4 separate regions of the Homo sapiens genome follow, and regions 1, 2 and 4 are each linked to region 3. Evidence: fine-mapped expression QTL. A gene starts in region 3. Each other region holds a variant in brackets. All regions are shown on one strand. Distances are between the middles of the regions. Region 1 overlaps LINC01461 (long intergenic non-protein coding RNA 1461). Region 2 has its middle 25 kb from the start of RPF1. Region 3 holds the start of CTBS (chitobiase). Region 4 overlaps LINC01461 (long intergenic non-protein coding RNA 1461).

Region 1 (7,497 bases), 34 kb after region 3:
AACCATGGGGAGGCACACACTGTGCTGGGACCCAGGGACCAAGGAGAGAGAACAGTCAGGGGGACACTCCCACTGTCATCCCCTCCACCCTGGGTCACACCAAAAAGAACAAGGAGACTGAGGGATGCCTCTCCTCTTGTCTCTTTTCCAGGATGGGTAGCAAGTCATTTTGGCTTGCACTCTGCTGGAGTACATTTTGAACTCCTTTGACACCCAAACTCTGAAGAAAAAGTGGCTCATTTTCTGTTGCACAAGGGTGTGGCCTTCTTACCCTCTCAGGAATGAACAGACCTGGCCAGCTAAAGGGAACCTTAACTTTAATCTTATCCAGCAATTAGATCTCTTCTGTAGATGGAAGAGCAAATGGTCCAAGGTTCTCTATGTGCAGGCTTCCTTTGCCCTGCGAGACAACCCAGACCTTTGCAAGCATTGCAAAACCAACTCAGCCCTCTTAGCAATCATATCAGACAGGTCTGTGGAGAGTAGTTCCCCTAAGTCAGAAGAGCAAGTTTTGGAGGAACCATTAGAGGCAGCTTCTAAGTGCCCCAGTCCTTCCAGTCCCCTTTGTCCAGGGCCCCCTCCAGCTGCACCATCAGCTCCTCCAGCTCCACCATCTCCAAAGCTCCCCACTGCCCAGACTTCACTCCTACCCCTACAAGAAATGCCAGATGGAAGGGGCACCATTAAGGTACTTATTCCCTTCTCATTGCAGGACCTTAGGCAGATAAATGGGCTGATTTCTTGATAACCCTAATAGATATATAGAGGCCTTCCAAAATTTAACTTAAGTGTTTTACCTCACATGGAGGGATGTTGTGCTGTTGTTTCTCAGCCAAACCCTCACTGCAGCTGAAAAGCAGACAGCTCTGCAAGCAGCAGAAAAGTTCGGAGATGAACAACATGTTCCCTATAGTGACCAAAAAGGAAAAGGGGAGATAAGGAAGGTGAGGAAATAACAGAAAAAAACAATCTCAATAGGGAGAGAGGCTATACCTCTTGACAATCCTGACTGGAATCCCTGTGACCCCATAGATGAATGGAAAAGGAAATACTTTTTAATGTGCATATCAGAGGGCCTAAGAAGGACTAGGACCAAACCTCTTAATTACTCTAAACTGTCCTTATTGAATCAGAAACCAGATAAAAATCTCCCTACCTTTTTGGAAAGGCTGAGAGAAGCTTTAATAAAACACACCTCCCTGTCTTCCAATTCAACAAAAAACAGGTTCATCACTCAGGCAGCCCCTGATATCAAAAGGAAGTTGCTGAAACAGGCCATGTCTAAAAATCTTTCTAGTTTTTCTCACTCTCAAGTTGAAACTTTGCAGTATGTAAATGACACTCTCCTCTGTGCCCCATTCAAGGATGTCTCAGGAAGGCACTAAGACTCTTCTCAATTTCTTAGCTAAAAGGGAGTATAGGGTCTCAAAATCTAAAGCTCAGCTCTGTCAAACTTCAGTAAAGTACCTAGGCCTAATCTTATCAGAAGTGTGGGGGATCGGTCAGGGTGGTGAAAAAACTATAGGGAAAGGACACAAACCTTCTGAAAGGTCGGAAGTTTCTGCAGAGCCCCAGGGAAGAATGGCTGAAGACAGCTGTTCTATAACCCTAAGGCAGAGGGCAAGGAGTAGGTACAAGGGAGTGTGGGGGAATTTATCTTAAACCGGTTTGTTTACTTATGTTGACCAGGAACTGACCTTGGATCATCCCCATGCAACATTCCCTGAAAGGGGAACAATAAATGTTAATTACCTGCAGGTTGTGTTGGCTCCAGGTTTTCGGCATTGTGCCTGCACTGAATAAAAGCAAACAGCTCCAGCTTCTCGGGACTGCTGTCTGGCCACTGGAGCCAGGCAGTCACCTAGCTGCTCTTACACTGCATACCTGTGTCTGAGTACTCATTTCACCCATCGGCCAAGGTCTGTGGGACAGACACAGCACAGAAGGAACCAGAGTACCAGGTGAGGAAAGGATTAACCCCGTTTCCTTTAAGAGTTAAGAAAATTATTGGGCATTACTGAATTTTGCAAAATGTGGGCATTACTGAATTTTGCAAAATGTGGGCACCAGGGTATGGTGAAATAGCTCATCCTTTATACCAACTCTTAAAAGAAACTCAAGCAGCTCCCTAACTTGGGAACCTAAAACACAAAAGCCTTAAACCAGCTAAAGCAAGCCTTGCTTAAAGCACCAGTTCTCAGCCTTCCCATAGGGAAGGTATTTAATCTTTATGTATATTGGAAAGGAAGAAAATAGCCCTGGGAGTTTTGACTAAGACTGGAGGTCCAGCTCTACAGCCAATGGGTTAACAATGGGGAATAACTTAACTGTTTAGCTCCACGCAATATAACAAGACTACTGTCCTCTAAGGAAAGTCTGGCTAACAGACAATTGCCTCCTCAAATATCAAGCTTTGCTGCTAAAGGGATCTGCAGTCCAGTTGAAAACCTGCCACTTCCTGAGCCCAGCCACTTTCTCCCAGAGAAAACTGGAGAACCTAAACATGATTGTGAACAAGTAGTGGTGCAAACTGGGGGAAAAATGGTAAGAATCACTGTTTATCTTCACTGTAAAGTTTTATTTGTGAAAAAGGATTTTCCTAAAGAGCACTCAGCTTAATTCAAAGTGGATATCAAACCTATGGGTATATTTTAAAGGCCTTTATGTTTTTCTCTTTATAGATCTTGTTTTCCTGGAAAAGGTCTTTTTTTCTCAGTCAACTGAGAAAACTGTGACTTACCACTCTTGGTGCATGCATGAAAGACCCTAGAATGACTTCTGGTAGCCTGGGACTCCTTGGGAAAACAGAAAAGGTGCCACAAATCCCATTTTGGGAAAAATCTGTTTTCCTCATGGAACACCTGGAATTAAAGGTGAATAAGTAGTTCTCAAAATCTATCTTTGTCTTCCAGCTTTGCTTGTTTATTAGGCCCTGGAAACTGTATTCCTAGCCCTGTTCTTAAAGGGTCTCACCAGGAGGCTAATAATCCAATTGGGAAATTAGCAAATGAAAAATTTTAGAACCACTGGATCTTTTTCTGTTTGTCTGTGTGGTTATATATGTGTTATGTGTGTAATGTCTATTTGAAAAGAGCTCCAATTAATTGGACTAAGAAAAATAAGCACTTAAATAAAGTATTTTTAAAGAAAAAGTAAAAGCTGTGGTACCTTTCAGTTCACACAACTTTAATCTTCAAAAATAAAAACAGTCTTAGAAACTATTGGTAAAATACAAATGTCTTCAGGATGTAAAAATGTGATCTAAATTATGCAGGTCAGATACTAGGTTTGATAAATGTTTTAAGGTTGTAACTGCTTTTTTAGCCTTTAAATATTGTCTACTTGCCTGCTTCACAATTGGTAAGGCCTGGGAACATATGGAAGTAACCATGCCCCTAATGATGCTGAAAGCAGTCAAACTTTATCTGCATCTAGCACATAATTAAAACAACCTACCAGGTTTTACATCAAAGTTAAAAATTGCTAAGTGTTACCATTATGACATGTAATGAGACTAGTGAACATGGATTTGCATGCAAGGTGTGTAAAAAAACAGTAAAAGCTGTTTTTAATTAAAGATAAGAAGGCATGAAAATGTACATTTTGCCTAGCCATAAAGGATTGTCTTAAATAAAATAAAGCAGAAGGTTTAAGCAAATTGTAAAAAGATTGTAAAAACTAATCTTGCAAAGGAAACTCTGTGTATGAACATATTAACTAATTTCAAAGGGGTATTATATAGTTTTATAAATTAAGGATTAAAATGCAAGCACAGGGTTTTCTTAAAATGCTGATCTACTCTTTAGCAAAATTTGTAGAGGGTCATAAAAGGTTTGTGTAAATCTCACCTCATGGTCAAACTGGTTAAGATTGAATAGGATTGTCTATAAAGTTTCATTAAAAATCAGGGTTAACATTAATAGCAAACAAATGCAAGGGTGAAATTTAACATTCTCTCTTGAATAGGATTTTCATGTAATAGAAAGGGCTGATGAATGGTTTTTGCTTTTTCAAATTTTTGACTCATAATTTTGGCAAAACAAAAAACTTACAGTAATCTAATATCAAGTGTTTTAAATTTTGAACATATTTAACAGGCTTCCCAAAATCAAACTTTAGTTTCAAGGTTGTCTTTCCTAGCCCCTAGCTTTTTGTTCTGCACAGGGCTCCTAGAACATCCAGAAGAGAGGTAAATAGGATTATTTAACTTGTTTAGGTACATGGAATTGCCAAAATGATGTCTAATACTCTTCAGGTTATATTTTAGGGAATAATATTAACATATGTTCCAAAACTGTATGGAATGTCTAAGGTACTAGTGTCTGAATAATACGCGCTATTAATCACAATTAAGGTTGTTATGTTAGGTTATTGTAAGCCACAGAAACAACCAAATTTGTCAATCATGTTCTTGACTGTAACCACCCTGGACATTTTGTCATTTACAAACAATTGTTGTC[T/C]TGTTTGAATCTTTTTCTTAAAAAAAATAGTTTCTAATCAGCTGTGGAACTTACATAGGTGCTCTTAAATGCAGGTTTTTGATTAAAAAATGTATAGGACTCATACAAAGCTGAAATGTTTATGAATAACAAGCAGATCAAGAGTTAATGGAATGGGCTGAACTAATAGAAAACTAAAGCAATATTCTTGATTTATGCTTGTAACACTGGTGATCCTTATTTTGTTTTTCAGAGTCAAGGAAATTTTCTTAAAAGCCTTTAAGAACTAAGTAAACTATACTCCTGTAAACAATGTTTGGAGCATGTTTGTTTCTCTCTGCCTAGTTCTTCTAGAATTTGGAAACTAGTTATAAGTATTCTTGAATTACAACTATATAGTTATTTGCATCAGTGCAACAAGAATCCATTTTCTTTTGCAACAAAACACAATTGGAAAAACTGATTGTTTTACCAAGGCTTTGACTTCAAGGCTTTGACTTGCAGAGCCAATGAAAGCCCTTTGGGAAAACTGGCTGCATACCTTGTCTACACAGTCTCTGTACAGTGTTCCTGACCTGTGGTGCGTAAAGAATGTCACTTTCTAACAGGCCCGGAAACCCCATGCTCCTGGAACCTCAAGAAGAAAGAAGTTTATCCAACTCACAGGTATTTGAGGGTACAAACTCATGGCTGGGCTTGGCTTCAAAAAGTCCTATCCAAGATTCCTTGTGGAACAGAGTTCTATCAAAACCAATCAAAATACACAGAGGTAATTATTCTTGCTGTACTTTTTGCAGATAATCAGGCCAAGTATAGGACTAAAGTTTATTCTGCAACCAGCTCAGTCCTATCATAAGTTGTTTTTCATAAAAATGAGAACTGGAGAGAGAAATTATGTTCCACACTTACTGTACATCTGTGATATAGTTTGGCTCTATGTCCCCACCCAAATCTCATCTTGAATTGTACTCCCAGAATTGTGGGAAGGACCCAGTGGGAGATAATTGAATCATGGGGGCAGTTTCACCCATACTGTTCTCATGGTAGATAAGTCTCATGAGATCTGATGGTTTGATAAAGGGAAACCTGTTTTGCTTAGCTCTCATTTCTCTCTTGCCACCACCATGTAAGACATGCCTTTTGCCTTCCACCATGATTGTGAGGCCTTCCTATCCAAGTGGAACTGTAAGTCCATTAAACCTCCTTCTTTTGTAAATTGCCCAGTCTCAGGTATGTCTTTATCAGCAGCGTGAAAATGGACTAATACAATCTGTCATTGACTTCTAGTCTCATTAGTTGTTTGTAAGTTCTTGCCAACATTTTAAACTAATCATGCTTATTCCTGTAAACCAATCATCAATCTCCAGCTGTGGCTCAAAGGAGACAGAAAGGAATGGGTAATATAAAAATCTGGAACAATGTGCTAGTTCTGGGCACTTATGCTGCAAATCCTGCCAGGTAACCTATAACCCCAAGGTTTCCTTTTCTGGCGGGGACAGTAAGACCAAGGGAGCTAAACAAAGCCAAGCCCCATACACCCAGTTACAACAGCACAACCCATCTAAATGGCTCACAGATATCAAACAAACTCTGTTGTCATGGTTATGGCCTATAGTGCCTCACTAATAATGGTAGTCTTATATATATTTGGACCCTATATTCTAAACCTCCTTGTAAAGTTTCTCTTCTCACCTAGAAACCATCAAGCTTCAGATGGTGCTGCAAATGGAGCCAAAAAGGAAACCACCCTTCTACCAGGGACCCTTAGATCGACCCCAGGAGGAGCCCTAGATGCTGTTCCCGTACCACGCCCTCTCCAGCGGGAAGTAGCCAGAAGAAGTTGTTGCCCAATTCCCCCTAACAGCAGTTAGGGATTCCATTCCTGAGGGGGAAATATGTTATACAAGACAGACAGAATTTATTTAGGTAGACAGTTAGGGTAAAGCGAGTCCCCAGCAGAAACTTTTCTTCTAACAAAAAGCAGCTCAGAAATAGCTCTCTTTCTAACCTCATGCAGTTCAAAGAAATCACTTCTCTTCTAACAAAGAACAGCTTGAAAGATCAGGCTGTAAAAACAAACAACTCGGGCACAGAAGGACAGGGGGAGTCCCCTGGGTAATCACCAAACTTCACACTCCTACAATGGACCCCAGTAAAAACCGTGGGCCTTAATAAGCACATTCCTTTCCCTTTAAGCACACTAAGATAGAGAAACTAAAAGCGGATTGTGGGGAGATGCCTGCAGCTGCAGGAAGATGTCTGGGAACAGACACAGAAACTCTCCCTCCCAGATAAGCAAAACAAAGCAGCACAAAGCAGCAAGGACTGAGTCTGCCTATGTGATCAAGGAAATGAGGTAAGAACTGATAGAAAACTCTGCTCTATGCACATAGGACACCTGGTCCCAACTAAATCTTCAGGCCTTAGGAAGATAAGACACTCCCTCTTTTTTTTCTTTTTTTTTTTTAAGAGAGAGTTGCTCTGTCGCCAGGCTGGAGTGCAGTGGCATGATCTTGGCTCACTGCAACCTCCGCCTCCCAGGTTCAAGCAATTCTCCTGCCTCAGCCTTCCGAGTAGCTGGGACTACAGGTACGCACCACCACACCCAGCTAATTTTTGTATTTTTAGTAGAGACAGGGTTTCACCATGTTGGCCAGGATGGTCTCGATCTCTTGACCTCGTGATCTGCCCGCCTCAGCCTCCCAAAGTGCTAAGATTACAGGTGTGAGCCACCGTACCTGGCCAACCCTGACATTTTTACTAAAACTTGACAACCTGCTCTGGACCCCTCTCTGTGACAGAGAGCTGTTCTTTCCTTTTGCCTATTAAACTCCTGCTCCAATCTCACTCTGTGTGTGTGTCTGTGACCTCAATTTCCTTGACTGTGAGACCAAGGACCCTGGTATTTACCCCAGACAATGAGGCTCCTTCAGTGAGATTAGAGGCATGAGCTACCACATAGCCGGAGTCTACATACTCTTAACCCTCTGGTCTAAGAGAGGAGGCAGCTTTGGAGCCATTATCAATATTCACGAGTTCGACAAACATTGCCTCAGCA
Region 2 (7,497 bases), 120 kb before region 3:
AGAAACTAGAATCCAGGGCTGGGTGCAGTGGCCCATGCGTGTAATCCCAGCACTTTGGGAGGCCGAGGCAGGCGGATCTCTTGAGGTCAGGAGTTTGAGACCAGCCTGGCCAACATGGTGAAACCCCATCTCTACTAAAAATACAAAAGTTAGCCAGGCATGGTGGCGGGAGCTTGTAATCCCAGCTATGTGGGAAGCTGAGGAGTAGAACTGCTTGAACCCAGGAGGCAGAGGGTGCAGTGAACCCAGATGGTGCCACTGCAATCCAGCCTGAGCGACAGAGCAAGACTCCATCTCAAAAAAAAAAAAAAAAAAACTAGAACACTTATATGTTAGGCACTGTACTAAGTATTTTACATATGTTCTTTAATTCTCACAATTCTTTGAGATCAACACAATTATTATTTCCATTTGAAAGATAAAGTAATTAAGGAACAAAGAGATTAAGCAATGACACCAGGTAGTAAGTGGCAGAGCTAGGACTCAAACCCAGTTCTACCTGATTCCAAACTCACATTCTTAACTACTCACAAGATATGACTTTAAGTGACATATGTGAACAATAATAGGAATGAAGAAGTAAAACCAATGCAGGACACATTGTGAAGGAGGAATCCATGAAGTTTAGCAACTGTTTCAGTGTATCAGAGAAAGGGGAGGAGTCAGAGATTACTAAGGTTTGAGGGGTGAGTAACTTGAAGAAGTGACACTGTTCAAAGAAACAGGGAGGTCAGAAAGAGCCCAGCCTCGGAGAGGAAGATGAATTCATACTTAGACAACACTCATTTCTAAGCAGGGAAATAGTGTATGGAGAAGAGAGCTACCAATTTCATGTTAGTTTATGCCACTCGGCCACCCAGATTCTCCAAACCCCATGTAGAGACTGGACTAGAACTCCTGGTTCTTGTCTTCCTGAACAGATTTTTCTAACCTCTTCTACTATTTGAACAATCAGCCCAATTTTAAAAGTTAAGTCAGAAGGAAAAATTAAAGAGAGTGATTAAAAAAGGGGTGGCCTTTTTTCTCCAGGAGTTTCTGGTCTGTGTTTAATTCTAAAGCAACCAACACGTGTCTCTGCACAACAGCCAGCAGCATTTTGGCACAAGATATTCATGGATTGTCATAATAGGCAATGCTAACCAACTTAGCAGAAATAAGAATTTAACACCTTTATGAAAACTACTGCTTCCTCTACACCCACCGTGATCACCAAAGTTTTTTCTGAGAAAAAAAACTCATGATTTGTGATTAGAACGTCAGGTTTCTGCCATTAATTAGTTGTGTGACCTAAGCAAGTAACTTGATTTTTCTGTACTCATGTAATTCCCTCCTCTATTAACTTGAGTGGGTTGACTATATTCAATTTAACTCAGATTTAACTAACATTTACTCAGCCAATGCTAGGATTCTTTCCAACACTTTATATTCCATTATTCAAAATGGTAGAAAGAAGGGGCAAAAGGTCTTGAGCCTAAATAGATGAGAGCTGAAAGCAGTGCTATAGTTCATTTCATGCAATTCTCTTAGTTTATAAACCAAGAAAGTGAGGCCCAGAATCTTGACTCACTGTGGATAAAAAGCTAGTTAGCAACCAAGTCCAATCTAGAACTGAGCCCTGATTTGCCTTCTTGGGCTTTTCCCGCTACACCACAGTGTCCTTTCTACCCAGCTAGTTTAGGAATGTTTGTCTTAGATCAACTCAGAATGAGTTACAAAAGGAAAAAACACAAAGCCTGGCTGATCTGAGAGAGATTTATGTGTTGGATTTAAGTTCTTATAAAATAAAATCCCGTAACACTTCAACTGCAACATAAAGTATTAGGCTATGTTACATGCTCTTTATAGCACAGTATAATGGCTAAAGCCTAAGGCAGAACTTCTGTTCTTACTGCCATAGACACAGCCTAACTTCCAAAAGGTTATTCTGAAGTTGTGAATCCTGAGACAACAAAAAAGAGGTGATGGTGCCCCCCCAACCTGGGTAGCTCACTTGGCCAAGTCTGCATTTGGTGCCCACTTTGACTTTGCCACTGGAGGATCAAAGGAGGAAAAAGATGCTCAGAACTAGGTAGAGAGGAAAGAAGGGGGGTGAGAGAGGGTGCCAGCCAAGCCCTTCAGCAGCATTGCAGATCTCCATCTCTAATTCCCCATCTCTTTACTTCTGGTTCTAAGAAACATACAGAAATAGAGGAACAGCCAACACAAAATTCAAAAACAGAAACTATAGTGAGAGTTGGCATGGCACTGCCGTAGGAGCTTCTGCCATAGGCAGAAGTACACACTGCCTACCCCAAGAGCTGGCTCTGCTCACAACTTCCTTGCTGAGCTGTGACGTTTAATAAGACCCCCTGGTCAATGCCTTAGGTTCCTTAGACACCGGCATTAAATGAACACAGAAAGACTAATAAATAGAACTAATTCATTGTTTTTATAAATAAGAGTCTTTTTACCTTCTAAATAGGAGTAAAAATGAAAAAGATAAATTTAACCACATTCGGCCAGGCACGGTGGCTCATGCCTGTAATTCCAGCACTTTGGGAGGCCAAGGCGGGCAAATCACCTGAGGTTGGGAGTTCAAGACCAGCCTGACCAACATGGAGAAACTCCATGTCTACTAAAATACAAAAGTAGCCGGGCATGGTGGCACATGCCTGTAATCCCAGCTACTCGGGATGCTAAGGCAAAAGAATTGCTTGAACCCGGGAGGCGGAGGTTGTGGTGAGTGGAGATCGCGCCATTGCACTCCAGCCTGGGCAACAAGAGCAAAACTCTGTCTCCAAAAACAACAACAATGACAACAACAACAAAAATTTAACCACATTCTTCCTTTGAGGTAAAACCATCTGGACCATCAAATAACTGCCCACTCTGAACACAAAGGAGCATATCTCCTCTGACACTTGCATGTCAAGTCTTTCTAGGGCCCTTTTCTAATTGATAGGCTTTATTATATTCACAATCCTACATCTGATGTACATAATACACCTCTTATTCTAAAATGAATATTTTTAAATCACAGTAGT[G/A]TTCATTCATTTATTTATATATCAGCAAATATTTATTGAGTATCACTTACATGCCAGGCACTGTTCTAAGTGCTAGGAATAGAGCAGTGAACAAAATAAACAAAAATCCTGTGCTCATGGAGCTCACTTTCTAGTTCAAATCTCTCCCTCTTTATTTTCAAAGTGCTCAATTTCATAAATGCTTGTTAGCCCAGGCGCCGTGGCTCACGCCTGTAATCCCAGCACTTTGAGAGGCCGAGGCGGGCAGACCACCTGAGGTTGGGAGTTCGAGACCAGCCTGACCAACATGGAGAAATCCTGTCTCTACTAAAAATAAAAAATTAGCTGGGCTTGGTGGCATGCGCCTTTAATCCCAGCTACTTGGGAGGCTGAGGCAGGAGAATCGCTTGAACCTGGGAGGTAGAGGTTGCGGTGAGCTGAGATCGCTCCACTGTACTCCAGCCTGGGTAACAAGAGCAAAACTCCATCTCAAAAATAAATAAATAAATAAATAAATGCTTGTTGAATGAATAATAAATAACATTTGGGATAATCTGTGAGAATCAGACAAATTATACAGATTGTCTGTGAGCCATATAAAATCTAAGACAAAATGTATGAATTTAATTAATCCTTGAATTTTTACCTCCATTTCCTGTCAAGTCTCTTTTTCATTTTTGCCAGCCTGCTGTAAAATAAAATAAATTCCTAGGAAGTATTTCTTCCAAGGCACAGAGTATAAAATATCAACAAGGCCGGTCACAGTGGCTCACGCCTGTAATCCCAGCACTTTGGGAGGCCAAGGCGGGCAGATCACAAGGTCAGGAGTTTCAGACCAGCCTGGCTAACATGGTGAAATCCTGTCTCTACTAAAGATACAAAAATTAGCTGGGCGTGGTGGTGGGCACCTGTAATCCCAGCTACTCAGGAGGCTGAGGCAGGAGAATTGTTTGAACCCGGGAAGCGGAGGTTGCAGTGAGCCAAGATCACACCATTGCACTCCAGCCTGGGTGACAGGGCGAGACTCTGTCAAAAAAAAAAAAAAAAAAAAAAAAAAAGGCCAACAAAAGAGAAAAAGGCATTTATAAACAGAAAAAAGAGAGACAGCCTGGTAGTGATCACCTTCATTCAGTGAAGTCCTACATTTAGAGACCTTGTCCTCTATGCCAAGCATCAAATTTTTAAAGACCCAATAAAGTAGCATTTCAAAAACCAACACTAAACGAATTAATAACCTGGCTGAACACTTACTTCAAGGAGGTTCAGAGCTGACCCTCTAGAGCATGGCCTTGGGGTTCCATGTTGGTTTACGTTCATCTGGACCCGGTGTAGTACTGCTGACTTCCAGTCAGTTGCAACTTCATTTTCATAGTGTCCTGGGTGGTGCAGCCTGAGGAGGGGTGGGTCAGGCAAATAGGTGTTTCATAATGCAGTCAGGTACAGAGCAAATCCTTTGCCTCTGGGAAGTAAAGTTAAAAGGATAAGAGATTATGAGAGAAATCCACTATAGCACCAAGGAATGGTAACAAATGTGGAAATGTGGACATCAAAGCCTGGGTAATTAGTAAAGCAAATCTCCAAAGAAAAAAATGGATGAAGTCATCTTTCACATTCCCCTTCTAAGCCGACTGGATGAAAGAATAAAGGGATTTATTATTTTATCAGGAAATCAAAAAAAGAGAGAGAGAGAAAAGAAATATCAGAATGACACAAGCATTTGCTAGCAAAAATAATGCTAAATTCATCTCAAGGTAGCTTCCACTTAGAAGGCAAACCTATAATAAAAGGAATGAAATAGGCTTTCTTTGCCACCACTCAAGCAAACTACCATTTATATTACTACTAGCTACATTCATATCCAAAGAAAACAGATGAAGTCAAACACAAGTTTTCAAATACTACCAAGGATATACAGGTAAAAAGAAATCATAGGCTGGGAGCGGTAGCTTGCACCTGTAATCCCAGAACATTGGGAGGCCAAGGTGAGAGGATCGACTTGAACCCAGGAGTTTGAGACCAGCCTGGGTAACGCTGGGAAACCCAGCCCTTTAAAGAAAAAAAAAATTTAGCCAGGCATGGTGGCATGTGCCTGTAGTCCCATCTACTCAGGAGGAGGCTGAGGCAGAAGGATTGCTTGAGCCCAGGGGTCAAGGCTGCAGTAAGCCATTATCAAACCACTCCACTCCAACCTGGGTGACAGAGTGAGACCTCATCTCACAAAAGAAATCACAGCAAGTAAACTACAAACATGAACAAGAATACAAAGTGGTCCTATAGGGTCCAGAATATAAGTTACCTCCATCATGAGGATAGTGGTAAGAGGTAGGTCCAAATCTCGATTCCCGTCTTTGGTTATCTTCTCAAGCAGTCCCCTGTAAGAGGGATAACTTCACTGCTTAGTAATGACAAAGCAGTTCTCTGTTTATTAGAGGAATCCCAATACTGTAAAAATGAGCAATAGCTCTAAGATGCATATTAAAATAACATTCAAGACCATTGTGACTTTTGTGAAATGGCCTCTAACACAACATGCAGCTGAAACATCATGTATCAGTATGGCTTGGGAAGGGGAAATGGATGGGGGAACGGGGGTGCAGGTGTATGAGGAGAGGAGGCATAAGTGCCCCTTTTTTAGTATTTTATTGTTGTCGTTCACTAATTCTAATTGTTTGCTTTTGAATACTTAAAAATATTTTAAGGGTATTGATTCCACCTTCTCTTTCAAATTTTCAATTATCTCTCCAACTTCCTTTACTGGCTTTCCCTTCCTTTCAGCGCGTTTATTCTCCCTGTTTACCTCAGTCTTCTCTGTACAGCAAAGTTCCAAGTTTCTGTAGCAGAGAAATAAATTAGCTAAGGAGAGGGAAAGAGATGTGATCAGGATTAGAGGAAGAACCATTTTAGCTTCCTTGGTCCCTGATTCTATCAGAACATCTATGTAATCTGGTGAAAATTATTGCAGAATGTGGCAGTCGTGGAGGCTTAGGAAAGAAACTCCACCATTATAAATTCCAGCCAAGAAACATGTGAAAACATTCAGTCATTTATTGCACCCACATACAATCCACCATCTGGATTCACATTACATAAAAGCATGCAGAAAGCTTTGCATGCCAGAAGTCGAAGGTGTGCATGAAAAAGTTGACTAAATAACCCCTAGCCAGTGACTGAAAAGCCAGTGTTGAAGATGGACAGGCTGTGTGATGGGAAGTGTGGCTTCCAATAGCTCTTTCAGATGATTTGGAAAATGCATGACTATTGTTCATCTTCAGATACAAGCATCATCATTGCTGATATTACAGTGACTAAAAGAGCTACTATGTACCCAGGAAAGCAACCCAATATATGAAGTAGTAAATTTATACTCTCCATCTGTGGGTAAAATATAAGACAAAACATAAAAACAAAATGATTATAAAGAATGATAATAAAGATATGTTGAAAGGCACCATTATTTTTATTACTAAGCTACTGAGGTATTGTGAATTGTTAACTTGCTTTATTTTCTTTCCTTGTGCCTTTTCATTTTTGTTCTATCTTCAACCTGAACCTCCCATCCCCCAACATTCAAGCACATAGATAATTATGTGTTTATGGCCTCTGAGTAGCTTTGTGGCAGGATGGGAAGCAGAAGAGGGCTGCAAGTCTTTTTCATTCTTCTTCCAAAGTCTTGGGATAACATGGGTGTTTTTGTGAAGGAGATGTTTCTATACTAAACATAAAAAAGTGTCATGATCAGAAATATAAAATTAAAAGGACTTTCACAAGTAGAGATTCTTCCTGTTTCAGGTTGGTGGCTAAGGGAGAAGAGAAGGAGAGTGAAGAAGGTCTACAGGTTCTGAGAGCAAAGCAAATGTGAGCCCATTTCTTGCCAGCACACAGGTTCAGCACCAAGACCCAGAGAGAGAAAGGCTGCCTGCTTTGTCTATGCTGATAGGAGTACAACAACCTTAGTACAAATTTTCCAGCAATTTTCAGCAGATAAAAGTAAGCTGATCATTCTCCCAGGTGATATATAAATTAAGGTACTTAGCTTAGAAGCAAACTGCACCTGACTTGAGCAGAATTTGTTACCTCAAGCAAACATGGAATTTACTGGAAGATTATGGAGAAGTTCAGGAAATCAAAGGCAATCTGGGAACACCTAGCTTCAGAAAGTGAAATCACTTTGGTAACCTGGATAACCAAAAGTGCAGCACCATCCCCTCGGGGTGCTGATACCAGATGGATCAAATCTATCTGGTATCCTTGAGTCCTATCCTTGAGTCACCGCTCACAAAATTTAAATTTCTGAAGGAGTTGGAGGACCCTTTCTTACATCCCTTTCCCAACCTTCAGCCAAGGAGGGTAAAACAATTTATTTCATAGTTATAGGACACTGTAGGCATTGGGGGTGGGTAAGTCCCCAAAAGAAAATCAGGTGCTATTACAAAAAAAAAAAGAATGGATGCTGGGTAGGCATAAAAACATATGCTCACTGCAAACGGCCACTTTA
Region 3 (7,497 bases):
AAGTAAGAGATGATGGTGACCTCAACTAAAATTGTGGAGCAGTGGCGTTAAGTGAACAGATCTGGAAGATCCTAAGGAGGCAAAATTGACAGGACTTTGTGACTAATCGAATGAGTAATCAAAGGAGAGAAGTCTGATAATACTCAAGTTTCTGGCTACTGCAGATGGAGCCATAAATACATTTACTGTTTTTTGTTTGTTTGGTGAAGCTAGCTTCTTAGAATAGTACCTAGGTCAAATTCTAAGGCACCTGATGTTGTGTTTCTCTGATATTTTCTTCCCACAGTTAATTCAAGAAGCACAGAAGCCTCACTGATTATTTTTATTTTATTCCAAGGCATTAATTCATTGATTTGGCAAATATTTATTGAATTTCCAATAAGGTACAAGGAGAGTATTTTGCTAGGCTCTAAGGAGATAAAGATTAATGAGAGAGACCAGGTCCAGTAAGGAGTTAACTACTTAATTACAATGGTATTAAGGACTGTAGGGGTTACAGGGGGCCACGCCAGCATATAAAGGGGACCTGCTAGCCAGATGGTGCACGAAAACTTTTCTGAGGACTACACACTTTCGGAGTGGGCTGAAATCAGCAGAATGATGGAAGAGATATACCTATGGACAAAAGATTGCATTCTCAACTGAGGGAAGGGAAAGCCCAAAGGTCGCTACACCTCAGGAGAATTCTGAGATTCTGGAACTGAAAAAGGTCAATGTAGGTAGAGCACAGAAATCCTGCAAGTATGTGGAACTGGATAAAACCTTTAAAGTCGGTAGTGGAAAGATTAAGTAGGACTTCCAAGACCACTGAAGATGTTGTATTTTATCTTGGGATCAGTGGGAATCAATTAGAGTTTTAATTCAGGGGATATGCATTACAAAAGAGATCACTGGGTCCTTGTGAGGGGAATGAATGAGGGAGAGACAGTGGGGATAGCAGCTGTAAAAGTTAAACCAGGCATTTCTTAATTTTTTTTAATTTTTTTTAACTTTTCAGAATTAATTATGCATAACTCATTTTTTCTGCTAAGCAATTGCCTACTGAAATAATAAAAATTCATAATGTGAAATTAAGTGGCCCATTGTTTTCTGACTCATATTTCTATCAAAACTTCTATTTTAGTTCTGATAATTAAGATTCTATTTGTTTAAAAAATACTAAGAGCCTGTGATATAACAGATATCCTTAAAAAAAAAAAAAGCTGGGTGAACTAATTGAAAATATAAGGGGAAAATGCCATGTAGTCTAGTTTTTGTGTTTGAAAAACATAGAAAACGCCAGTAGAGAAAAAGACCATTTACCATGAAGATACAAATAAGCATAATTTTGCTTCTTTGAATAGTTGGTTTTCAAAGTGCCCACAGATATTGCCTAACCCACTAAGTATTGGGTACTACAGTAAATCTTTCAGGTTTTTTTTTTTTCTCTTTTTTGAGACATAGTCTTGCTCTGTCGCCCAGGCTGGAGTGCAGTGGCGTGATCTTGGCTAACTGCAACCTTCCGCCTCCCGCTCCGCCTCCCAGGTTCAAGCGGTTCTCCTGCCTCAGCCTCCCAAGTAGTTCGGATTACATGTGCCCGCCACCACGCCCAGCTAATTTTTGTATTTTTAGTAGAGACGGGGTTTCACCATGTTGGCCAGGCTGTTCTCGAATTCCTGACCTCAAGTGATCCACCCACCTTGGCCTCACAAAGTGCTTCTCAATCTCAAAAAGAGATTGAGAAAATTAAGAAATGTCTGGTTGAACTTTTACAGCTACTGTCCCCACTGCCTCTACCACCGCGCTGGGCCTCAGATTGTATAAAACATTTTAATTGGGAGGCCATTATGCTGAAACAGCTCCAACTGCCTTGGATTTCCTGCTTAAGCAAACTCCAGCCCAAGGTCAACAGTGAAAGGAAACTTAAGCTTAACCTATCAGAAACTGCCAACTAACCTCTAACTAGTAATTTTCCACCAAGTCATAGCTAAATAAGGCAAACAGTCATAGCCAACCAAGTAATTATTTTCCTTTGCTTCCCTGTTCGGCCTATAAAAGCCCATGCTACTAAAGCAGACCTCTCTGAACCCCTTCTGGTTTAAGTACTGCCGATTCATAAGTTGTTCTTTGCTCAAATAAAAAAGGTTATCCTACTTTGTCTGAAGTCTTTCTTTTAATAAGATGTTAGGTTTCCACACTAGGCAGGTTCTCCATAAACACTTTCACCATTTTTATTTCTTCTCCTAAGTCATGTATATATACTTTTTTACTGGCATCTAAGTGTTCTGCCTCAGATTAATGTACTAGATTAAGAACTAGGAATCATGCCTATTTCTACAAAAGAATCGTTCTTTGAATTAAGCCTTTGGACCTTCCTGATGTCATCCAATTCCTGCTTTCAGTCATCGAAGTGGGCAGTCAGGTGGTTTTAATATTGCTCCAGAAGGTGTTTGATTAAAGTTGCCAGAAGCCTTACAAATTGTTATGTAGATAGAAGGAAAATGTACTGAAAGCTATTTTTTTTACCACTCTTCATGGGTGGTTTTGAGGTACTTTAAAGGAAAGGGCTAGCAGGTATAGAAAACTAAAGGTAAGCAAAATACTCTGCATTCTAATGTACTGTTGGAGTGCTGAGATTCTTTCAAACGAAATCCTCGTTCCTTGGAAACATAAATGGATTATCCTACCTTGTTTGCTTTTTACACCCAGAGTGCTTCCGCAGAGGCACAGCAGGGGAATGAAAGGAGCTTGCCTTAGGAGGCAGATCTGGTTTGAACTCTCGCCTGCCTACGCAGGCACTTACAGGCTGTGAGGCCTGAGGAGTTACTCAACTTCTCTGAGCCCGAGCTTCCTCATCTATAAATTGAAGGATCCGTAAACAGGAAGGCCCTCATCGAGTGGTCAAAGCTGGTTTCGGCGCCCACGGCACCTCTCCTTAGGGCTCCGTTCTACCCTAACTTCTCTTCGTGCCCTGAAGCCCAGACCTAGAGGAGCAGAGGAAGGCGCTGACCTCGAAATCTGGATGGTGGCGAATCGGGCGGCAGAGCTCAGGCTCCGGGCATGGGCAGTCGGTCCCGGCCGCGAGCCGCAGCGCCAGCAGCGCCAGCAGCGCCAGCAGCGCTAGACCCGGGACGCCGCTCGGCGGGCTAGAGACGAGGCGCCAGCGTCGAAGCTGCGGCCGGGACATAGCAGCAGGTCTAGCGGGCCGGAGTGGGTTCCTACCGCCTGGGTGGGCGGGGCCTGCTGCGCGTCGGGGCAGGAAGGGGCGGGGAGAGTCGGGAAGGGCGGGGAGGGGCGGGAGGGGCGGGGCTCCGGGGCGGGCGTGGGAGGTCGGGCTTCGAGCGTCCCCGGGCGCTACAGGTGGGTGAAGTTAAGTGGCTGCTGGAGCGTCTCGGGGGACAGCCAGTGTCTGCGGCGCCGAGAGGGCCGTTCGTGGACTCAAATGGGTATCACCCCTACCGTTTATAGTCCTCCCAATAGTCTGCATCTCGTTTTGTCGTGGCTGGTCGTGTACTCCTTGTGGAGTCTGAAGGTACAAGGGGATCCCCAAAATGGAGAAGTGGGTGTCTTTGGAAGGGCCTACTGAGTAACATGGTTGGAGTGGCCAAAAGACTTTGTTTTTCTTTTGCTACTCAAAAGAAAGCTGGAATACCAAAAATTTTTACTTACGGATATCAGGTCTTAGTTAAGATCGTGGTTTGAATTCAAGCATCTAATTTTGCCTACTCTCCTGTTAAAAATCAAGTTTAACAACCTAAACACAAGGACAAAGAGATAACAGCAACAAAATGTTGGAAGCTGGAGAGCACAAGTATGAGTATGAGAGGTAAATCGGAAAAGGGGGAGATTAGTCAAAGGCTGCTCAAGGACTCTGATCGCTAGATCCTTTTTCCAGCTTCATGTCTCTGGGCAGCTGCCCCTCTTTCCCACCACGGGCTCCCACCCCGGCTGAATTCCCTGAAGGGGATAAATTCTCTGCTGAGTGGGTATTCCACCTAAAACGGAGAATAAGTGGCTTTATGCCTACTGAAAACTGAAACCCCTCGCTATCTGATTAACCTAAGAGGCTGAGCAAAGATACTGACATCGGGTTTTCTGGACAAATCATACACCCAGATCACCCTACAGTGAAATTCAAAGTTAAAAGCACCAGCTATCTACTTGGAGCTTCCTCTCTTTGTACTTTTTAATTTTTACTTTTAATCATGGACAGCAACCAAAAAAATCCAATAATGTAGAAAGAAGGGACCCAAACAACAGACAAAGGAATATGGAGGAAGCAGATGCTGCAGGGAGAACACTTTTAAAAATTCTCATAATAGCCCCAGAAAAATAAGAGAAGATGAAGCCACAACAGGGTGCAATAAAAGGGGTAGGGGATTTTTAAAAGTTAATAGAAATAAGAAAGAAGTGAAAAAACTATTAGTAGAAGATAACACTGAGGAATGTAGAGCAAAAACTCTGAAAGATAAGAAAATTGGAAAACGCAGTACAGAGGGGATGAAATAAATAATTCTTAAAGGTGCTTGAGAAGCAGCGTAGTACAAATAAGAAGAAATAAGTAATTTGGGCTGGGCACAGTGGTTCATGCTTGTAATCCCGGCACTGTGGGAGGCCGAGGTGGGCAGATCACTTGAGCTCAGGAGTTTGAGACCAGCCTGGCCAACATTGTGAAACCCCATCTCTACTAAAAATACAAAAATTATCTGGGCATGGTGGCAGACACCTGTAATCCCAGCTACTCGGAAGGCTGAGGCAGGAGAATCGCTTGAACCTGGGAGGTGGAGGTTGCAGAGATCACACCACTGCACTCCAGCCTCAGCAACAGAGTGAGACTCTGTCTCCAAAAAAAAAAAAAAAAAAGAAAAGAAAAGAAATAAGTAATTATCAAGGCTCCAGGACTGAAGAACACGCGTTTTCAGAATGAAAAGCTAGGCCAGGCACTGTGGCTCACACCTGCAATTGCATAACTTTGGCAGGCCAAGGCAGGAGGATTACTTGAGGGCAGGAGTTTGAGACCAGCCTGGGGAACATAGACCCTGTCTCTACAAAAAATAAAAAGCAAAAAATTAGCCCTGTGTGCCAGTGCGGTGGTAAAAGCTTGTAGTCCCAGCTGCTCGGGAGGCTGAGATGAGAGGATTGCTTGAAGCCGGGAGGTTGAGGCTGAAGTGAACTATGATCATGCCACTGCACTCCAGCCTGGGTGACAAAACAAGATCCTGTCTCAAAAAAAAAAAAAGTACAATTGAACCTCCATAACCAGAGGTTCCACATCCATGGTTTTAACCAATGTCAGATAACAGTATTTAAAAATAACAAATAATACAGCAATTTAAAAATGCAAATAAAAATACGGCAAGAGCACTGTCAACATAGCATTACATCGTATTATTATAATTAATCTAGAGATTATTTGAAGTACAGGAGGATGTGCATAGATTATGCCATTTTATATAAGGGACTTGAGCATCCATGGATTTTGGTATCTGGGAGTCCTGGAACCAATCCCTCATGATACTGAAATGTAACTATGTTTTTAACATGAATGGTTGCACTGAATCAAGTTTTCAAGGAAAAGAGCCTTCTGACTCATAGAATCAGACTGTATTCTGTGACACAGAAGAAAACACATATCTACCTGTGTTAGGGATCCCTAAGATCACCTCCAGGTTCAGTGATGCACTAAAAGAACTCATAGGACTCAGTTGTACTCACAGTTAAGATTTATTACAGCAGAAGAATATGAAGCAAAAGAGCAAAGGGAAAAAGTGCACAGGAAGAAGACAGGAGGAGGCCAAGCACAAGCATCACGTTGTAACATGTGTGAAGGGCTGTCTGCCATGGAAGCTCATTAGAGACTCAGGGAACAGCAGGAACACTCCCAAATCCACCTACAGGCCAACCTTCAGGAAGCAGGCCTTTCTAAAGATCGCAGTCTTAGGCCTGTTACGGTAACTCTTTTCTGCATACTAACCAAATGAGGAATTCCTACATATTTGTATTGAATTTTATATTGGTGCTGTACATTCTATGGGCTTTGACAAATGTATAATGATGTGTATCCAGCATTATAGTATCATACAGAATAGTTTCACTGCCCTCAAAATTATCTGTGCTCTACCTATTCATTCCTCTCTCCTTGCTAACCACTGGCATCCACAGATTTTTACACTGTCTCCATAGTTTTGCCTTTTCCAGAATGTCACATAGTTGGAATCTTACAGTATATAGCTTTTCAGATTGGCTTCCTTCACTTAGTAATACGCATTTATGGTTCCTCCATGTCCCTTCATGGCTTGATTGCTCATTTCTTTTTAGCACTGAATAATACTTCATTGTTGGGACGTACTACAGTTAATCCAATCCTGCAGCATCTGCTTCCTCCATATTCCTTTGTCTGTTGTTTGGGTCCCTTCCTTCTACATTATTGGATTTTCTTGGTTGCTGTCCATGATTAAAAGTAAAAATTAAAAAGTACAAAGAGAGGAAGCTCCAAGTAGATAGCTGGTGCTTTTAACTTTGAATTTCACTGTAGGGTGATCTGGGTGTATGATTTGTCCAGAAAACCACTGATGTATCTATTCACCTACTGAATGGATTTTGTGTTATCACTTTTTTGAATTTCACTGTAGGGTGATCTGGGTGTATGATTTGTCCAGAAAAACCCCTGATGTCAATATCCATTCACCTACTGAAGGACATCTTGGTTGCTTTCAAGTTTTGAAAATTATGAATAAAGCTGCTATAAACATTCATGTGCAAGTTTTGTGTTATCACTTTTTTTTTCCAGACAGGGTCTCTGTCACCCAGGCTAGAGTGCAGTGACTTGATCAAGCTCACAGCAGCCTCCATCTCCTGGGGTCCAGCAATCCTCGCACCTCAGCCTCCTGAGTAGCTAGGACTACAGGTACATGCCATCATGCCTGGCTTTTATGTATTTATTTATTTATTTTAGTAGAGGTGAGGTTTTGCTATGTTGCTCAGGCTGGTCTGGAACTCCTGTGCTCAAGGAGTCCTTCTGTCTTGGCCTTCCAATGTTCTGGAATTACAGGCATGAGCCACTGCGTCCAACCCTGTGTTATAACATTTTTAAGCCAAGGAGAAATGTTTGTTTTTGACAACTTAACCATATCTAATTAAATGTTTTATTAAAACCATTCACGTGGGCCGGGTGTGGTGGCTCACACCTGTAATCCCAGCACTTTGGGAGGCAGAGGCGGGTGGATCACAAGGTCAGGAGTTCGTGACCAGCCTGGCCAATATGGGGAAACCCCGTCTCTACTAAAAATACAAAAATTAGCTGGGTGTGGTGGTGCATGCCTGTAATCCCAGCTGCTTGGGAGGCTGATGCAGGAGAATTGCTTGAACCCGGGAGGCAGAGGTTGCTGTGAGCCCAGATCGTGCCACTGCACTCCAGCCTGAGTGACAAAGTGAGACTCTGTCAAAAAAAAAAAAAAAAATTCACAATTCTAACACTGTACGTCCATCTAGTTGATCCATTGATTCATGGTAGCATGC
Region 4 (7,497 bases), 22 kb after region 3:
ACTGAATGGGCAAAAGCTAGAAGTATTCTCCTTGAAAACTGACACAAGACAAGGATGACCTCTCTCACCACTCTTATTCAACATAGTACTGGAAATTCTGGCCAGGGCAATCAGGCAAGAGAAAGAAAGAAAGAAAGGCTATTCAAATAAGGAGAGAGGAAGCCAAACTATCTTTGTTTACAAATGAAATGATCCTATATCTAGAAATCCCCATTTTCTCAGCCCCAAAACTTCTTAAGCTGATAAGCAACTTCAGCAAAGTCTCAGGATGCAAAATCAATGTGCAAAAATTGCTAGCATTCCTGTATGCAAACAACAGGCAAGTGGAGAACCAAATCATGAATGAACTCCCATTCACAATTGCCACAAAAAGAATAAAATACCTAGGAATACAGCTAACAAGGGAAGTAAAGGACCCCTTCAAGGAGAACTACAAACCACTGCTCAAAGAAATCAGAGATGATACAAACAAATGGAAAAACATACCATGCTCATGGATAGGAAAAATCAATATTGTGAAAATGCCCATATACTGCCCAAAGCAATTTATATATTCAATGCTTTAATAAAACTACCATTGACATTCTTCACAGAATTAGAAACAACTATTTAAAAATTTATATGGAACCAAAAAAAAGCCCGAATAGCCAAGACAATCCTAAGCAAAAAGAACACAGCTGGAGGCATCATAGTACCCAACTTCAAACTATACTACCAAGGCTACAGTAGCCAAAACAACATGGCACTGGTACAAGAACAGACATATAGACCAGTGGAACAGAATAAAGAATCCAGAAATAAGGTTACACACCTATAGCCATCTAATTTTCAACAAACTTGACAAAAACAAGCAATGGGGAAAGGATTCCCTATTTAATAAATGGTGCTGGAAGAACGGGGTAGCCATATGCAGAAAATTGAAACTGGACCTCTTCTTTACACCATACACAAAAATCAACTCAAGATGGATTAAAGACTTAAATGTAAAACTCCAAACTATAAAAACCTTAGAACAACCCTAGAACAAAATCTAGGCAATACCATTCAGGACATAGGCATGGGCAAAGATTTCATCATGAAGACTCCACAAGCAATTGCAACAAAAGCAAAAATCAACAAACGAGATCCAGTTAAACTAAAGAGCTTCTGCACAGCAAAAGAAACTATCATCAGAGTGAACAGACAACCTACAGAATGGGAGAAAATTTTTGCAATTTATCCATCTGACAAAGGTATACAAGGAACTTAAATAAATTAACAACAACAACAAAAAAATTAAAAAGTGGGCAAAGGACATGAACAGATGCTTCTCAAAAGAAGACATATATGTGCCCAACAAACATATGAAAAGAAGCTCAACATCACTGATCATTGGGGAAATGCAAATCCAAACCACAATGAGATACCAGTCAGAATGGCTATTATTAAAAAGTCAAAAAACAACAGATGCTGGCAAGGTTGTGGAAAAAAAAGGAACGCTTTTACACTGTTGGTGGGAGTGTAAATTAGTTCAACCATTGTGGAAGACAGTGTGGCAATTCTTCAGAGACCTAGAGGCAGAAATACCATTTGACCCAGCAATCCCATTACTGGGTATATACCCAAAGGAATATAAATCATTCTATTATAAAGACACATGCATGCATATGTTAATTGCAGCAGTATTCACAACAGCAAAGAAATGGAATCAACCTAAATGCCCATCAATGATAGACTAGATAAAGAAAATATGGTACATATACACAATGGAATACTATGCAGCCATAAAAAATGAGATTATGTCCTTTGCAGGGACTTGGATAGAGCTGAAAACCATTATCCTCAGCAAACTAATGCGGGGACAGAAAGCCAAATACCACATGTTCTCACTTATAAGTAAGAGCTGAATGATGAGAACACAAGGACACATTGTGGGAAACAACACACACTGGGGCCTGTCGGAGGGTGGAGAAGATAAAAGGGAGAATATCAGAAAGAATAGTTAATGAATGCTCGGCTTGATACCTAGGTGATGGGATGATGTGTGCAGCAAACCGCCATGGCACACGTTTACCTATGTAATAAACCTGCACATCCTGCACATGTAGCCCTGAACTTAAAGTTTAAAAAAAAGGCAACAAAAAACCTTTCCTAAAGATTTGATCTTACATCAAGTAAACCCCAATTATTTTTGAGGAGTGCGTCTTCCTTCAAAATAACAGATTATACTCTCAAAGCTTTAAAAATAAAACACCCACACTCATACACACAAACTGTGTCAGAGAAACATTTCCAGACTGTTAGTGGCACTTCTGTAAATTCTGTGAAAAGATTTTGTGTCCTATTATATTCTTGAAAAATATTTTGGTTTTTTAGGATTCAAAAAATGAAAGGTTTCAAAAGCAAAGACAGTAGCAAAAGCGGCAGCAGGTCAGTGACACCTCGAGCTCTGACACAGCAGCAGCAGCTGCCACCTCAACAGCAGCCTCCATGGCCACGAACTTGTGTTATGTGAAACATAATTTTCCATATAAAATTATATTTAATATTTAAAAATAATAGAGACATGATAGGGAATATTAGAATCCAATTTTTCTACTTGAATTTTTCTTTTTCATTATAGAGCCCCATGTTATGGTTGAGCATGAGAAAAATGGTTTCATATTAACAGTCCCTGATTACAGCATTGAACTTTATGATGAAAAACCATGCAAGGTCCTCCTTCCTGTACTACTTTAGTCCAAATAACCATCACCTCTCTTTGGGCTGGCTGTAATAGCCTTCTATTTGAACCTCTTATTCCCTCAAAGCAGCCAGAAGTATCTTTCAAAATCATAAATCAAATCTTACCACTTTCCAGGTGGGTGTGGTTGTGCACCCCTGTAGTCTCAGCTACTGAGGAGTCTGAGGCAGGAGACTCATTTGAACCTTGGAGTTCTAGTCCAGCCTGGGCAACATAGAGAGACCTCATCTCAAAAAATTGAAACAAATAACAAAAACAGAAACGAAAAATGAAAAAAAAATCTTACCACTTTCCATCACATTCCAAATTAAATACAGAGTCCTTACCGTGGCCTCTAATGCTCTTAAACTCTGGCAGGTCTGGTGTCTGGTGAGGGTCCAGTTTCTGCTCCCAAATGGCACCTTTGTGCCACATCCTCACATGGCAGAAGGCTGAAGGGCAAAGAGGGTTCAAACCATGTGTGAAGGCTATTCTTTAAGGGCTTTAATCCCATCCATGAGGGAGCAGTCCTCATGACCGGATCACCTCCTAAAGACCCCACCTCTTAATAGGATTGCTTTGGAGATTAAGTTCCAACATGAATCTTGGAGAGGACACTTTCCAATCATAATAATGAGGAAAAATGAATACTTTAGTAACAATTTCTTTGGGCCACAGACACAAATCAACCGATTTGACCACGTTTTTCCAATGAAATGACAACCTTAAATTGATCATTTGTGATGTCAGGTAGTCATTTTGGGATATTTATTTCTTGCAATAA[C/T]CTTTTGATGGAGTTATTATGACTCCCATTTTACAAACGATACAACTGAAGCCTAAACAGGCAAAATGACTTTTTCATAGTCACACAGCTAATAGCGGTAGAGCTGAAAATGAAAATCTCCTGATCCTTGATGTTCTACCATCCCGGGTCCTACTTTAATTGGGAAATGGCAACCTCATTCAGCTCAGTGAAGGCTGGGTCACTTGCTAGGTTACAACTTCAGTGATCAGGGCACTTCAGTGGCTCTTCAGAGTTCATTTGTATATAAGTGAAGCTCTCCCTTTTGTAGACTTCTCTCTGTGTAAGTACAAACCAACCAGAGGCATGGCTATTGCTTTCCTGTCACTTAGGAATGAAATTAATGACTCCTTTATGTCCCATGCCAGGCAATCATCTCAATAGTTTGTGCAAGCTTAGCTTATCTACACAATATCAAACAGGCAATCACAGTTCTCCCATGATGCCAGGCAAAACAGAACTTTGTTTCTCCTACATAAAAGAGCACAACATCACAGGTTTAAAACCTCTCACCCTCAGTTTCATCTCACTATTATTGTGTTAAACATGCTTAATGAAAAATCTGGGCTGGGTTCTTTTCTGTCTTCCCACAATGAAAGTCACAGGAATGGAAACTCGGTTCCAAATGTTTCCATGTGGAAATGAAGTTGAGAGAAAGCAGTCTCATAAGTATGTGTTAAGTGCCTGTGGAAGCAGAGTCTCATGTTAGACGCAGTGACATTCAGGAACAAATCAGAACACATATTCTTGGCCTCCTGAGCTATCATTGTTGTTTGAAGAATGGAGCATTTACCATCTAATAAAAAAGTGAAAGCCTAACACACAAAATCAATTTTAAGACAAAGGCTAGGACTTCTCAATTTAGAAGAGGAGATACTTGAATTTTTCTCACACATCATCCCTCACCAGGGCTCCTGAGTAGAACATCTCAGACAACGTAGGACATAATTTGAAAAGTACTGATCAAATCAGTACAGCACTGATTAAAGAGCAGGTATTGAGTGCCACGCCCATTGGGTGTTGATCCAGGGAAGAAGCTGGGAGCCCTAGTCTTGGAACCCACCTGAGGATAGCCTAGAATGTCGTTCATGTACATAGTCTTCAACCTTTTTTTGCAAGGGCTGAGGTCCCTGGTCTTGTTCACAATCATCCTGCTGTACTTTTGGTCTTCTTGGATGGCATATCTGGTGGGCAAACTCCAAAACTGCCAACTGCAAACAAGAGAGAGAACAATCCCTCTGTCATCTGGCCATCCTACCCCGCAGCTGAGGGGAGTGTCAGCGAACCTGGAGCACCTCCCGCAGTTCACAGACTAGTTATGTTTTCTTGATGGTCACATGCAGCATGTGGAGGATACTACAGAATATGTTGATGATGGTTTTCAACATCTTTTCAGAAGCATAAAATTTCCAGCCTTCCGTGGTATGTTTAAATTTCACAGGGTCAGAGAGGTGGGCTGCCATCATAGCGGTTTGGGGGCCAGAAACATTTATATTTATTAATTTGAGGAGATCAAATCTAGAAGCAAGATTATGGGAAATGCTAACATTTTTCAAACAAAAGCGTTCGAAAGAAAATATGAGAAAACATCCTTAGTGTTTGAGAATTGTTTTTTAGTTTACTCTAGCAGTCTGTTTATTCTTTCATCCTATAAATATGTAGCAAGTATCTGCCTTGTGTTAAGTCCTGTAATGTGCTAAACGTTGGGATCACTTTCAAAGAGCTGGATGAGGTTTCCATGATGTCATACCACCTTGAAGATTTTCCAGGCCATTTAAGGCCTTCACTTACTGTAATTTCTCCCCAATTCCCCTCCACTCCATTTCTGAAAAAATACAAGCCTTTGGGAAATCCACCAGACCTGGGCAGAAGCCTAATTACCCTTTTGGAGACTCCCCAGGGGCTCCAGTGGTCCTCATTGTTTTGATCTCAGCCTCCTGACCTGGTTTAGAAGCAAACCTGGAGTTGCATGGGGTAGCATTTTATCATCTGCAGGTAGAGATCTGGCTAGTTGCTTGCATATGAGAAAAAGAGAACTGAGAGAGCCAATTTCAAATTGAGTTGGCAGAAACCAGTGTGCAGGAAGAACTATTCTGGCAGTTTTTAAATGACTTCCAAAGTATTTTGCATTTGAGAGAGCAACTAAACTGGTAAAAGAAACACTTGGATTGCACGGAATTGACTCAAGTGTAAAATAATATGGCTAATTTTCTCTTTTGATTTGGGATGATTGATGGAGTTGTGTGGAGGAGTGTGGGCAGAGAGAGCGTCTTTCTCTCCTTTCCCTGCCCTCCCACCAGTTCCACCTTACAGGACCTCTCTGGGCTCCCTTTAGGAATGCTATATAGACTTAGCTCTCCCTGCAAACTTGGGGGCGAGTCTCCTCCAGTGTTAACTCTGAAAAATTCAGGAGAGCATGAGTGTTTTAAGACCACAGGCTTTCTGATGTGTGACTCAGATCTGTGTTTAAAAGAGTCCATAACCCTAGAAGATTCTGATCATGATGGAAGAAGAATTTGCACTGTTCTCACTGATTAGACATGGAAAATCATTAGTTTCGCTTCTAGGGAAGAATTTAAACAATTGACAAAGCTATAGATTTTGCAGTCACAGCAGGGAGAAAGTGGAGGAAAAACATTTAAACAAGCAAAATTATTGATAAGAAATGGGCCCCTGTCTGGTTTCTATAACTTAGTTCTTCTGACTCATAGATGTTATAAAAAGCATCCTGCCTGAGTCAGAAATTTATTTTGGAGATATTACAGCTGCTCCCTTCCTGTTGAAAGGCATTTGTGAAAAAACTGTATATGACTAAAGACTTATATCAGCATTAGAAATGGTCGAGGCTAGGTGTACCCGTTATACTAGCACTTTGGGAGACCAAGGTGGATCACCTGAGGCCAGGAGTTCAAGACCAGCATGGGCAACATGGCAAAACCTCGTCTCTACAAACAAACACCCCAAAAAAGAAAAATTAGCCAGGCATAGTAGCACACACCTGTAGTCTCAGCTGCTCAAGAGTGAGGTGAGAAATTCACTTGAGCCCGGGAGATCAAGGCTGCAGTGAGCCATGATGGTACCACTGGGCAACAGAGTAAGACCCTGTCAAAAAAAAAGGAAGGAAGGAAGGAAGGAAAGGGAAAAATGGTCCAGAAGAAAGGTGAAAGTACAAAACAGAAGTGTGGGCCCTCTGGCTATTATCAATACTCAGAAAACTGCCTGTTCAAGAATTAGGCCAATTCCTGTTATATATCCAAGAGCTTGAACTATAGTCAATGGATGTTCTATATTTGTTTAGAATGATTGGTTGAGTGAGGAATTTCTTAAGAATAAGATTTGTTTATGCTCCCAGGGCTTGACAAGCCCCATTTTCATCTCAGGTCTCTAAACAAATTTTAAATGTAGACATAAACAATGGACAATTCATTATAGTATGCTCCATTATAGTACTTGATACACAGGTAGATAAATCCTGTTCTAAGGAGCAGACAAACAGACGAGGAAAGTTAAAACATACAGCTCTAGGAATTGTACTTTACTTAAGCCTCAATTTAGACAAATTAGACTATGTTAGTTCAGTTAGGAACAATAATATATTCTCATCACATGTGAATCTTCTGTAAGCTGTTTTGAAATAGAAGGTTAATAAAAGCTTAGAGGCCTAAGCATTCAATTCTGTTCTGGGATTTTCAACACTTACTATTTTTACTGGAACCCTTCATATGGGGTTTTCTTAAGACATTTTGGTGGTAGTAGAGGTGGTGAAATTAAGGCAAAAAAGAAAAACAAGTTGCTATTTCATTATAGGGGTGGGGACAGAACAAGGCTGAAGGGGCAGGGACCAGGGGTGAGGAAATGGGGCAGACAATGACCACTCATTGAGAACATTTTGGTTAAAAAAATGCCAATAATAGCACACAAATGGAGTAGGTGGGTAGTGTGACTCGGGGAACTCTGTGTGTTGAAGGTTTGACTTAAAACTATGCCCAACAGG

Evidence for each region. PIP is the estimated chance that this variant, and not a neighbour inherited with it, causes the effect.
Region 1: its variant is the best candidate, but not a certain one, in a credible set for the expression of CTBS in whole blood (TOPMed, PIP 0.71).
Region 2: its variant is the best candidate, but not a certain one, in a credible set for the expression of CTBS in whole blood (INTERVAL, PIP 0.75).
Region 4: its variant is the best candidate, but not a certain one, in a credible set for the expression of CTBS in whole blood (TOPMed, PIP 0.81).

What each region holds. Positions count from the first base shown.
Region 1 is chr1:84,605,344-84,612,840 of GRCh38, forward strand. All of the region lies in intron 2 of LINC01461 (long intergenic non-protein coding RNA 1461), which reads right to left. Among named protein-coding and RNA genes, the nearest start is that of LINC01461, 12 kb to the right of the region's middle. The variant T/C (reference allele first, on the strand shown) is at 4,461.
Region 2 is chr1:84,450,420-84,457,916 of GRCh38, forward strand. No RefSeq gene overlaps it. Among named protein-coding and RNA genes, the nearest start is that of RPF1, 25 kb to the right of the region's middle. The variant G/A (reference allele first, on the strand shown) is at 3,024.
Region 3 is chr1:84,571,250-84,578,746 of GRCh38, forward strand. CTBS (chitobiase) reads right to left here and starts at 3,191. Exons shown (of 7, transcript NM_004388.3): 1 at 2,990-3,191. The coding sequence starts at 3,166. LOC105378819 (a long non-coding RNA gene) reads left to right here and starts at 6,767. Exons shown (of 2, transcript XR_947544.4): 1 at 6,767-6,886. RefSeq lists enhancers at 1,781-1,830, 2,544-2,643, 2,754-3,043 and silencers at 3,204-3,323, 7,097-7,296.
Region 4 is chr1:84,593,383-84,600,879 of GRCh38, forward strand. LINC01461 (long intergenic non-protein coding RNA 1461) reads right to left here. Exons shown (of 3, transcript NR_125761.1): 3 at 4,582-4,714. Among named protein-coding and RNA genes, the nearest start is that of CTBS, 23 kb to the left of the region's middle. The variant C/T (reference allele first, on the strand shown) is at 3,486.